2 linked regions of the Homo sapiens genome follow. The protein of the gene in region 1 purifies or fractionates together with the protein of each later gene. This does not show direct contact. Each region holds a gene or a part of one and is shown in the gene's direction. Other genes may lie near its edges.

Region 1 (5,396 bases):
AATCTAGAAAAACAATTAACAGCTACATATCCACAACTACTAACATTCAATACTCTTGTTGTTTGGAGACCTGAGAAAGACAGACAGCAAAGGCTAAAATAGAATGGGAAGTTGACTGATCTGGTCACTTCCTGTATAAACTTTTGAATGTAAGCAGCAGGTTGATTTTCCATGCCTTCTTCTCTTACAGTTCAATTTAGTGTGGGTGATAAATGGGAGATAAACAGAGGATAGTGAGGTTGTGCCTATTCTTAGGAAGAAGATACCTTTCAAGTTAAGATTCAAGACTTTACGATGTGATTAGAAGGTTTTCTAGATAGTTCTGAAGCAAAATCATGAAGCTGTAGGAGGAATACTTTTATATAGCATCATTCATCCTTGTTAGCAACCCAAATGATTAAAGGTTTGGGAAATTACACCTTTAAATATGGTCTAAAGGAACTGGGTTTATTTAGTTTAGAGAAAGCAAGCAAGCACGCTGAGGGGGACTTAATCATAGTCTCCAAGAATATGAGGGATATTCTCTGAGTGATGGAAAGCAGCTGTTTCCTGTTTCCACTAAGGACTGGATAAGAAGAATGGAGTTAACATGCAACAAGTGGGTTAAGAACTCTTTGGCCATGAAGTTCAAGACAACAAATCCACCAGACAAAAGTCGCTACTGTGTTTGAGAATTATGTAGCTAACTAACTGTATTTCTTGGGTGGTTTATATGTGGCCTGTTCATGAGTCTGGAGCTAGTGAAAAAGATCCAGAGGACCTTTCACCCAAGTGAGAGGATGAGATTGTCTGTTTTCTGAGCCTACCAGTGCTCTGTGGTTGAGGAAGCTCTTATCGTAGTTCTCCTAGTAGGATTTAAAAGAGAAAAAGCTTCAGAGTCTCTTTGCTGCTCTTTGGACTCTTTCCAAGTAAGATAATCTAAATGTACTCCTTTTCTATAAGGTGGAAGATTTATATAGATTTGGCATTATGTGTCTTTTCTGCTTATTTGGTCGATATGGCCATAATTTTTAAAAATTCTGTGTCTTTAGTGAAACTGGACATATATATACACACATATATACATGTATATGTATGTATATGTCATAGACATTTGACATGTATATCATAAGTAATTAATTCAGCAATGGAGACAATGTTTAGTTCTAGGTAGTATGTCTAAATGTTAGCTATGTGAATAAGATAATACACTGTGCTAATTAGCAGCACAGAAATATGCAAAGCATTTTGTAAAAATGCACTGTTGCAGATTAGCTAGGGGAAGAATTTAGAGACAAAACGATGAGTTCTGTGAATGTTACCAGTTTTTAGTCAATGAGGCAGATCAGAATGCCTGAAAACTGCTTCTCAACCATTGTTTTTCTTATTCCTGTTCCATAGTAGGTTAATTATACCATTTATTCAGAATTAGATAAGTGATGTCTTACTTTCCCAACTGGGAGTATTTTCAAGGCAAGGTTTGATTCCTAGGAGATGGACTGCTATTAAGCTGTATCTTTAAAGCTGTAGCTTTATGCCAACATTCATTGTGTATACGTTCCACTATCTTATATTTTCATCTTGTACCAGCATTTATTTTAATCTTATTTAAAAATCTTTGCCTCTGTCATTGAATGTTTTCTTGACTCAATAACTTGTTTGGCCTTTAAAAATCCAGCACTGAAGTGGGAAAATGACTCGGGATTGAGTTGGATCATCTCTTCACACTTGTTCACTGGGAGGCATTGGGCAAGTTAGTTAACCTCCTTGAGTTTGCTTCCTTAATCTACCCTACAGGAACATTTTGAGGATTAAATAAAATAAAATAATGCATGCCAAGCCCAGAGCGTAGTGTACCCAGCCCTCAAGTCATGTTTATCTGCTTTCTTTAATTCGCAAAGAACATTTCTTACCTATCATAGAGCCATTGTTGCCTCCACATTCTCTTCTTTTAGTGGAGGTTTTGGACCACAGGGGCAGATCTGTAGAATAAGTCTTGTGTAAAATTCATGAGGGCACCCAAGGGTCTAATTGTATGAATCTCCTTCCTTTTCTATATTTACTTAATCCAGAAAAAAGTCTACCATTATGGCAAGTATTTTAGGAAGCGTCTGTTGCCAAATTACCTGAAACAAATCATGTACACACATGGAAGGAAAGTACATTTTCAGATGAGTGGAAAGATGATGCATTTTTGTTTTACAAGGTTTAAAGGATAGTTAATAAATCTTCTAGATACTGAAATAAACATTTAATAGATATTGATTCAATTGAGTGCTATGGTTTGAAACGATATCAAATTGAAGACATGATCCCTGACCTGGGAAGTTTTATGAATTTGCTGGAGAGACCAAGCCCATAGGTATGGAATGACCACAAAACAGAGTAGTACAAAAATCCGGAAGAGTAGTACAAAAATGACAGCTTGAACCCCTAAGTACTGAGGAAAGGCAGCATACAGGGTTTCAGTAGGGATTTACTATAGTAGACTTAGAATCATGATTTAGTTCCTAAAACCACTATCATTTCAAAATAGAATTTTTTTAAAACCACCTAAAATATTCACTTCCTTTCGAAACCTAGGAACATACTACAGTTGCGCTTTACTCATTTGAGATAAATACACCTTTCTTGAAATGTTAACTTTTTCTTTATTTTTTTTGTTTTTGAGAGGCAATCCCACTCTGTCACCCAGGCTGGAGTGCAGTAATGCCACCTCGGCTCACTGCAACCTCCGTCTCCCGGGTTCGGGTGATTGTCCTGCTTCAGCCTCCCGAGTAGCTGGGATTACAGGCGCCCACCACTGTGCCTGGCTAATTTTTGTGTTTAGTAGAGACAGGGTTTTACCATGTTGGCCAGGCTGGTCTTGAACTCCTGACTTCAAGTGATCCGTCCAACTCAGCCTCCCAAAGTGCTGGGATTACGGTGAGCCACCACGCCCAGCCTGAGATAAATACATCTTCCTAAAGCCTCAGTGTTTAGGCTGGTTTGCTTTCAGATATTCATCTATGCACCATACCAAACTACTTCTGCTGAGATTCATTCTGAGTCTGCAGGGGATGGAATACCTTTATAAATCATAACAAATCACATTAAGAGTAAAATATCCCAGCTAGGGACTTACCTCAAAAGCTGAGGCATGACACATATTTTAATGGCAATGGATTTGGAAACCAAGGTTAGGACCGTTCTTTCTTTATTAGAAGGAGATTTATAATTCAGGGCCTTTGAGAGTGAGCCTGGGTCCTCTGAACTGGACTTCTCCTCTTGTCCCTTCCTGTACCCCAACTCCCCAAATTAAATAAGTAGGGAAGCAGAACAAGAAAACCATTAACTTAATAGCATAGAATTTATGGCTGAAATCTTGCAAAGCTTATGTCAGCAAAGTAAAATAATTACTGTCACTTTCTTTTAGACACTTGGCTTTATGGTTCCTGTCACCTTTATCATAACATGCAGCTGATTTAGTAGCTATTTTTTCATGGCAAATAGCCTGGTGTTGTGTTTTTATGCATGTGACCATGCAATTGAGATGACAATGCATGGCTATACTACAGTAGAGCTAAATTTAGGTAATGAATTAGAACACTGTTAATAGTTTTGGTTTAGTCATGCTGTCAGAATGCCAACTCAGCCTTTTCTCTTGCTCTTTTTCCCCTCCAGATTCTCAAGTCCAAAGATTTAACATCTCCAACCCAGCGCTACATCGACAGCAAAGTTGTGAAAACAAGAGCAGAAGGCGAATGGCTCTCCTTCGATGTAACTGATGCTGTTCATGAATGGCTTCACCATAAAGGTTACAAGCCACTCTCTCTTTTCCTCCCAAGATGTTCAGTATCCCTAAGTTACTTTAAATTGATTGCAGATTTAAGGGTATAGACACACATACAAATGACCTCCTTGACTTAATGTTTTCCAGACAGGAACCTGGGATTTAAAATAAGCTTACACTGTCCCTGCTGCACTTTTGTACCATCTAATAATTACATCATCCCAAATAAAAGTGAAGAACTAGAAGCAAGATTTGCAGGTAACCAAAACTTGGTCATATGAGGTGGGGGAGGGAAGGGTCTATATTGATAATCTCATGGGGGATAAAATCAGTTTGCATGTGAAAATGAGACTGGTAAGGCCTGGGGAGTTTCATTCATTTGGACAGTGATATGGTTGGATATACATATGTGAAGGGAGAAAGGATTGGAAGAACGGAATAGGTTCCCAGTTTATAATTCTCAATGCCCAGTGATGACTTGGTCAATAATAACTGATTAACTCATTAACCCTCCAGTAGTAAGTTAAGGCCTTTGTTCTTCATTGTAGCAAACCAACTTTCCATCTATACTGATATTATAGAGAAAGATAGAATGTGTTTAAGAAAATTCATTGATAATCCCCCAAACCAAATGTCAGGAACTGACAACCGTATTTCACAGAAGAAAGGAGTCTCCTCCTGCTACAGCTTCCATAACTAACCTTCCATGTATAAGAACATTCCACCTTTTCTAGTCCATACCCAGTATTTCAAGTGGGTTCCTTATCAGAATTTTATATTAGTTTATAAACACATAAAAATGTTTTGGCTTTCCCCACGCTTACCTTTAAGTAAGTTGGACAAAAGTCATGGAGAGTGAGGCGATACCAAGGGCTCAAGTCACTTCATGTATTAGATGATGAGTTGTTGGATGATGAGAGGTGAGAGGAAATCCATGCCTATGTGCCGATACAGCATCTGCCCACAATGCCAGGCCAGAGAATTGATTTCCCTGCCCTCCTAACATCACCCAGGACCTCCATCCACTTTTAGAAGACTACAGCAGCCCTTGCTCATGGAAAAATACTCCCAGAGGTCTAGAGATTTATTTCAGTCTCTAACCTAGTCATGATTCTCTGGAGTGTGGAGATTAAATGCTTAAACTGGCAGTCTCTTGAGCATGCTTTGGGGAGCTCAAGTTTCTAAATCTCAGATGGAATCAGGAAAGTGTTGAGGATGCCATAAAATAAATGAAAAAGCCCTTTCTTCACAGCTTCCCAAAATAGCATTAGGTAAGGGTGACTTCTGTTTCACTTGAACCTAATTCACTCCAATTCAGTTAAGTCTCAGTTTATGTTCATTAGGAAAGTCTTTTGAGTTTAGTAGTCTTAGGAAGAGTGTGAACCAGCGGGTGACAAGGCATGTTCTATTGCCATGTGTTCAGTTGTTGAGGGCTTGAACGCAGCCTAAACTGAGGATTGACTAAAATAAACTGCCTAGATTGCCCTTGGACTATAGGTCAAAGACTGCTTCTGTAGTGACTTTCATAACCAACAGCCCTGGCTTTGACACCGAACTGCCTTCTGACAAGAGCCCCATTTAGAAGTGTTAATTGTCACGTGGGTTAGTCGTAGTCCTGTTGTGCCATATCTATTTCCATGGGGAA
Region 2 (4,800 bases), on another chromosome or scaffold:
TGAGAAGACTGAACATGTGGGGTGGTTGGTGAAAGGGTCCAAGCCTGTCTCACCTGCCAGACCATGAACTTCCCTAGGGCAAGGACCAAGTTTGATTTGCTTCTATTCCTTTTTCCTGTCCCAAGCCAGGGAAACTAGCCCTAAAGTTCTTGTGACTCTATGAGATACAGGGCAAAGAGAACACCTAGATCCACTTGTAAGGCCGGGCAGTCACTGAGGCCAGAGCCTGGCTGGGGAAAGGGCAGGGCCTCCGGAAGCCCCTCTTGGACCTGAGACTCGAAGAAGCTTATGACACAGAACCGGCAGCTGCTTCAGGAGGCAGGAAGTGCAGGCAGCTGCCTGCCCGCAGCCCTTCCCTGGGGGTGCAATGTCTCCTGTTGCCACCACCTTTCTTGCTCTTCAGAGCCCTTCTAAGATTCCCGGAGCCCAGAATTGCGGGCAGAGAAGGCCTCAGATGTCACCAAATACAAACGCACATTCTACCTCAGGGAGACGAGGCTCAGAGGGGAAAGTCCTTGACTACCCAACAGGCAGAGGGGAAGCGGGTGAATTTTGGAGTCTGGGGAAATGAGATAAGAGATAGGAAAGCACTTTCTGAACCAGCATGGGAATAATACACACGGGAAGTAAGGAGAAGATGTGTGACCCACCAGGGACCTACAGGATTCGAACCCAGCTGCCTTTGCCACTGTTCACTGCCTGGTGCCTCTCCCTACTCTGCTTTCCTCCCATGATCAGGTGGTGAAATGGAGTTGGATGGCAAGTCTTTGCTTCTGAAAAGGAAGCTGGGCAGTGGGTGTCCTGATAGCCCAGGACAGTGGGTGGGAGCTCTAAACTCTGGTCAAGGGCCAATTCCTCCAATTCCCTCCGACGGTAAGTCAGGCAATGCTGGGAGCTCAGAGCTGAAGGAGGCATGAAGACCCTGGAAGTGGAGCTCTGAGCACCGCCCTGGACTTCAAGCTTCTTCCTGGACTGGACTGGAGATCTGGGCATCCCAGTGCAGCCCTGCCCACCATCAGGCCCCCAGGCTTCTAGAGCAGGGGTCTTGGGCCCCTGAATGGAAAGCCAGTCTTGGGCTGTGGGCTTGGCAAACTTTGTGTCCTGGATCAAGTCTCAGGGGCTGGTGCCCCAGGGAGCCTTTGCCTATCCAGAGGCAGTATGCCTCTGCACTTGCCCGGGGGTAACACGCGGGGCACAGCACGGTGCCCCCCACACTGTAACAGTCAGTAAGTGGGTCCATGATGCTCTTTGCTGTGCTGACCAGCTGAGGGCCCAGTGGTCAGAACTTGGCTGGCACCAATAGGAAAAGGAATTTGCAAATGGGAGTTTTGAGCCCCTGACTGTCTGATCTTGGGCAGCCCACTCCCCTTAGCCTCAGTTTCGTTAGGGGTACAATAGGAACAGGGTGAACAATGCCTGGGAAGATTTAATGGGGTAGGGGGTCTCTGCACTCAGCACGCAGCCTGACACAGCTGGGGCTCCATCACAGGTCATTTTGTTGTTTCTGCTTTAAGTAAGGAATGCCCCAGGGGGTAAGGGCTGTGAGGAGGAGGCTATGTTTAGTGGCCCCTGCAGACAGAGAGGTTGTGAGGGAGGAAGGGCAAGGATGGGCAAGGCAGCTGGGCAGGTTTCAGGTTCACACAGGTGCCCAACTGACGGGGCATCCCTGGGCCTCCTGAGGCCCCTGTGAAGCTGCCTCCCTTGGAGGCTACATGGAGTCACTGTGCTGCATGGAGTAAGAAGAGCCACACGGAGGCCTGAGGCTGGGCAGGTCTCTTCCTCCCCCTACTCACCTTGGGGCTCTCAGGAGGAAGCGCAGAGCTGGACCAGGGGAGGAACACACCGGCTTGTGTTCCCTCCCTACCAGCTCAGCCACTGGCTCACTGTGAATTCACGCAAGTCACTGCCATCTTCAGGCCTCAGTGTTCACATCTGGGAAGTGGGTCAGCTGAACTCTTCTTGCTCTACCCGTCTTTGACTATATTTTGAAAATATCAATTATGCATTTTCTTTCCTCCTAGAGAAGTGATTGATTCAGTGCCTCAGACCTTTACTAAACTGATGATGTCTGGGACTCATTCATTAGGAAAAATTGACTTGCTAGTCAGGTCCAAGGCATGCACATCCACCAAACCAGTCCCTGTTTGCTCTGAGCTCGCTGTCTAGCAGGTCCTCACACACACAGCCACAATTCAGCGGGGCAAAGCTCTGAGAGGAAGCACAGTCAGGGAGGGCTCCCTGGTGGAGGAGGCCCTGAAGCTCAGTGTGAAGAGTTCATGTGTGGATCTGGTTGGGGATGGCATAACCAGCTCAGGGAGCAGGCCCCAGCAGTGGGTGTGGGAGCGCATGATGGGCAGTGGTCAGCTGTGGTCACTGCATGTGGGCTGGGGTGGGAGGTGGGGGACAGGTTGGCAGGGGCTACAAACAGCCTCGAAGGCCCTGCTGGGGATCCTGGACTTCACCGTGGAGAAGTTTAAGCCAAGCTGCCTCATTGTCAGAGTAGAGCTTTTGAGCAGTTGTCAGGCATTTAGCAGTGAGTGGGTCAGAACGGGTTGGCGGAGACAGAAGCTGGGGGCGGTGAGCCTGAGCCCGGTGATTGTGGAAGTCAGACCTTTTTCTGGGAAAGGCTGGGGTTCCTGGAGGCCTGGAAGAGAAGAGGGAGACCTGCATTTGCACAGGAAGAATTTTGGTCCCAGAAGGCACATCTGTGGAAGAACAAGAGTTCGGCCTTTTGTTGTTAAAAAACCTGGGTTCAAATCCCAGCTCTGCTCCTCACCAGCTGGGCAATCCTGGCACCTCCCTTCCCCTCCCTGAGCCTAGATTTCTGTAAATAGGGGTGATCGTATCAGATGGGCAGGCTGTGGTAAAGACCAATGGGACCATGGGCCTGAAAGTATTAACCAAGATGTCAAATGCTGAGTGGCTGCTGGGGAAGAACGTAAGAAAACAGAGTGGTTATGTGACTTCCTGGAGGTCGCACAGCACAAACACAGTCTCATCACCAAAGACTGTGGATTTGGCTCTGGCCATCTTTTCCCTGGCCCTTCCCACCTCCAGGGGCCCGGTCCCCTGACCCAGCCTGGGAAGAAAGCCACCTCCTAGGAGGTAACAGCAACAGAGAGGAAGCCACATCTCGGAAGCATCCACAAGGAAGGCAGGCCCCAGGACCCAGGCTCTGCCCATGACACGAGAGCCTGAATGAGGTCTGAGGCAGGGAGGCCAAGATAAAAACTGATGACAGAGCACAAATTACAGTTTTCCCTTTTGGAAACATTTCTCCCAAAGTGGAGAAATTCCCATCTACCACCAGAAATTTAACTATCTGTGCCCATAGAAGGGACCTAGGACATAGAATCAGGAGCCCTGGGTCCCAGCTCTGCCCTGCTGCTCACTGGCTTGGGGTCACTCTGTGGGATATATGGCTGTTTCCTGTAAGAGGGGTAATAATAAGTACAGGGTTTCTCTTTGTTAGTTTATTTGTCCTTCTATCTGTCTATCATCTCTCCATCTGTCCACCCATGGAACCTTCATCGAGTTCCTTCCTTAATGCCCATTACTGCGCTGGGTGCCCGAGATGGGGCAGGGAGCCGGATGGGTCATCCAGGCATGGGGTGATCAGGCTGCGGTGGGGGAAAGTTGAGCATTCTGGGAGTCCATGGGAGAAGGGTTCCCCAGCCAGGCAGGGTTCCTGGATAAACATGTCTGGTTTCATCCCCTACCGTGCCCACTTATGCCAGCTGTCTCCCCACCCTACCCCTCCCCAGGTGGACAAGAAGGTCTCGTGCCAGGTTCTGGGCCTGCTCCAGGTCCCCTCGGTGCTCCCGCCAGACACTGAGACCCTTGATCTATCTGGGAACCAGCTGCGGAGTATCCTGGCCTCACCCCTGGGCTTCTACACAGCACTTCGTCACCTGGACCTGAGCACCAATGAGATCAGCTTCCTCCAGCCAGGAGCCTTCCAGGCCCTGACCCACCTGGAGCACCTCAGCCTGGCTCACAACCGGCTGGCGATGGCCACTGCGCTGAGTGCTGGTGGCCTGGGCCCCCTGCCACGCGTGACCTCCCTGGACCTGTCTGGGAACAGCCTGTACAGCGGCCTGCTGGAGCGGCTGCTGGGGGAGGCACCCAGCCTGCATACCCTCTCACTGGCGGAGAACAGTCTGACTCGCCTCACCCGCCACACCTTCCGGGACATGCCTGCGCTGGAGCAGCTTGACCTGCATAGCAACGTGCTGATGGACATCGAGGATGGCGCCTTCGAGGGTCTGCCCCGCCTGACCCATCTCAACCTCTCCAGGAATTCCCTCACCTGCATCTCCGACTTCAGCCTCCAGCAGCTGCGGGTGCTAGACCTGAGCTGCAACAGCATCGAGGCCTTTCAGACGGCCTCCCAGCCCCAGGCTGAGTTCCAGCTCACCTGGCTTGACCTGCGGGAGAACAAACTGCTCCATTTCCCCGACCTGGCCGCGCTCCCGAGACTCATCTACCTGAACTTGTCCAACAACCTCATCCGGCTCCCCACAGGGCCACCCCAGGACAGCAAGGGCATCCACGCACCTTCCGAGGGCTGGTCAGCCCTGCCCCTCTCAGCCCCCAGCGGGAATGCCAGCGGCCGCCCCCTTTCCCAGCTCTTGAATCTGGATTTGAGCTACAATGAGATTGAGCTCATCCCCGACAGCTTTCTTGAGCACCTGACCTCCCTGTGCTTCCTGAACCTCAGCAGAAACTGCTTGCGGACCTTTGAGGCCCGGCGCTTAGGCTCCCTGCCCTGCCTGATGCTCCTTGACTTAAGCCACAATG

What was found. The genes of interacting proteins can lie anywhere in the genome.
Region 2: the proteins of TGFB2 (region 1) and LRRC32 purify together in Homo sapiens (co-immunoprecipitation; one large-scale study listed by IntAct). This does not show direct contact.

The regions. Positions count from the first base shown.
Region 1 is NC_000001.11:218,430,440-218,435,835, forward strand, and holds part of TGFB2 (transforming growth factor beta-2 proprotein isoform 2 preproprotein), read left to right. Parts: intron 1-3,642; coding exon 3,643-3,775; intron 3,776-3,898; coding exon 3,899-4,009; intron 4,010-5,396.
Region 2 is NC_000011.10:76,660,473-76,665,272, reverse strand, and holds part of LRRC32 (transforming growth factor beta activator LRRC32 isoform a precursor), read left to right. Parts: intron 1-1,406; exon of another isoform or gene 1,407-2,644; intron 2,645-3,764; coding exon 3,765-4,800.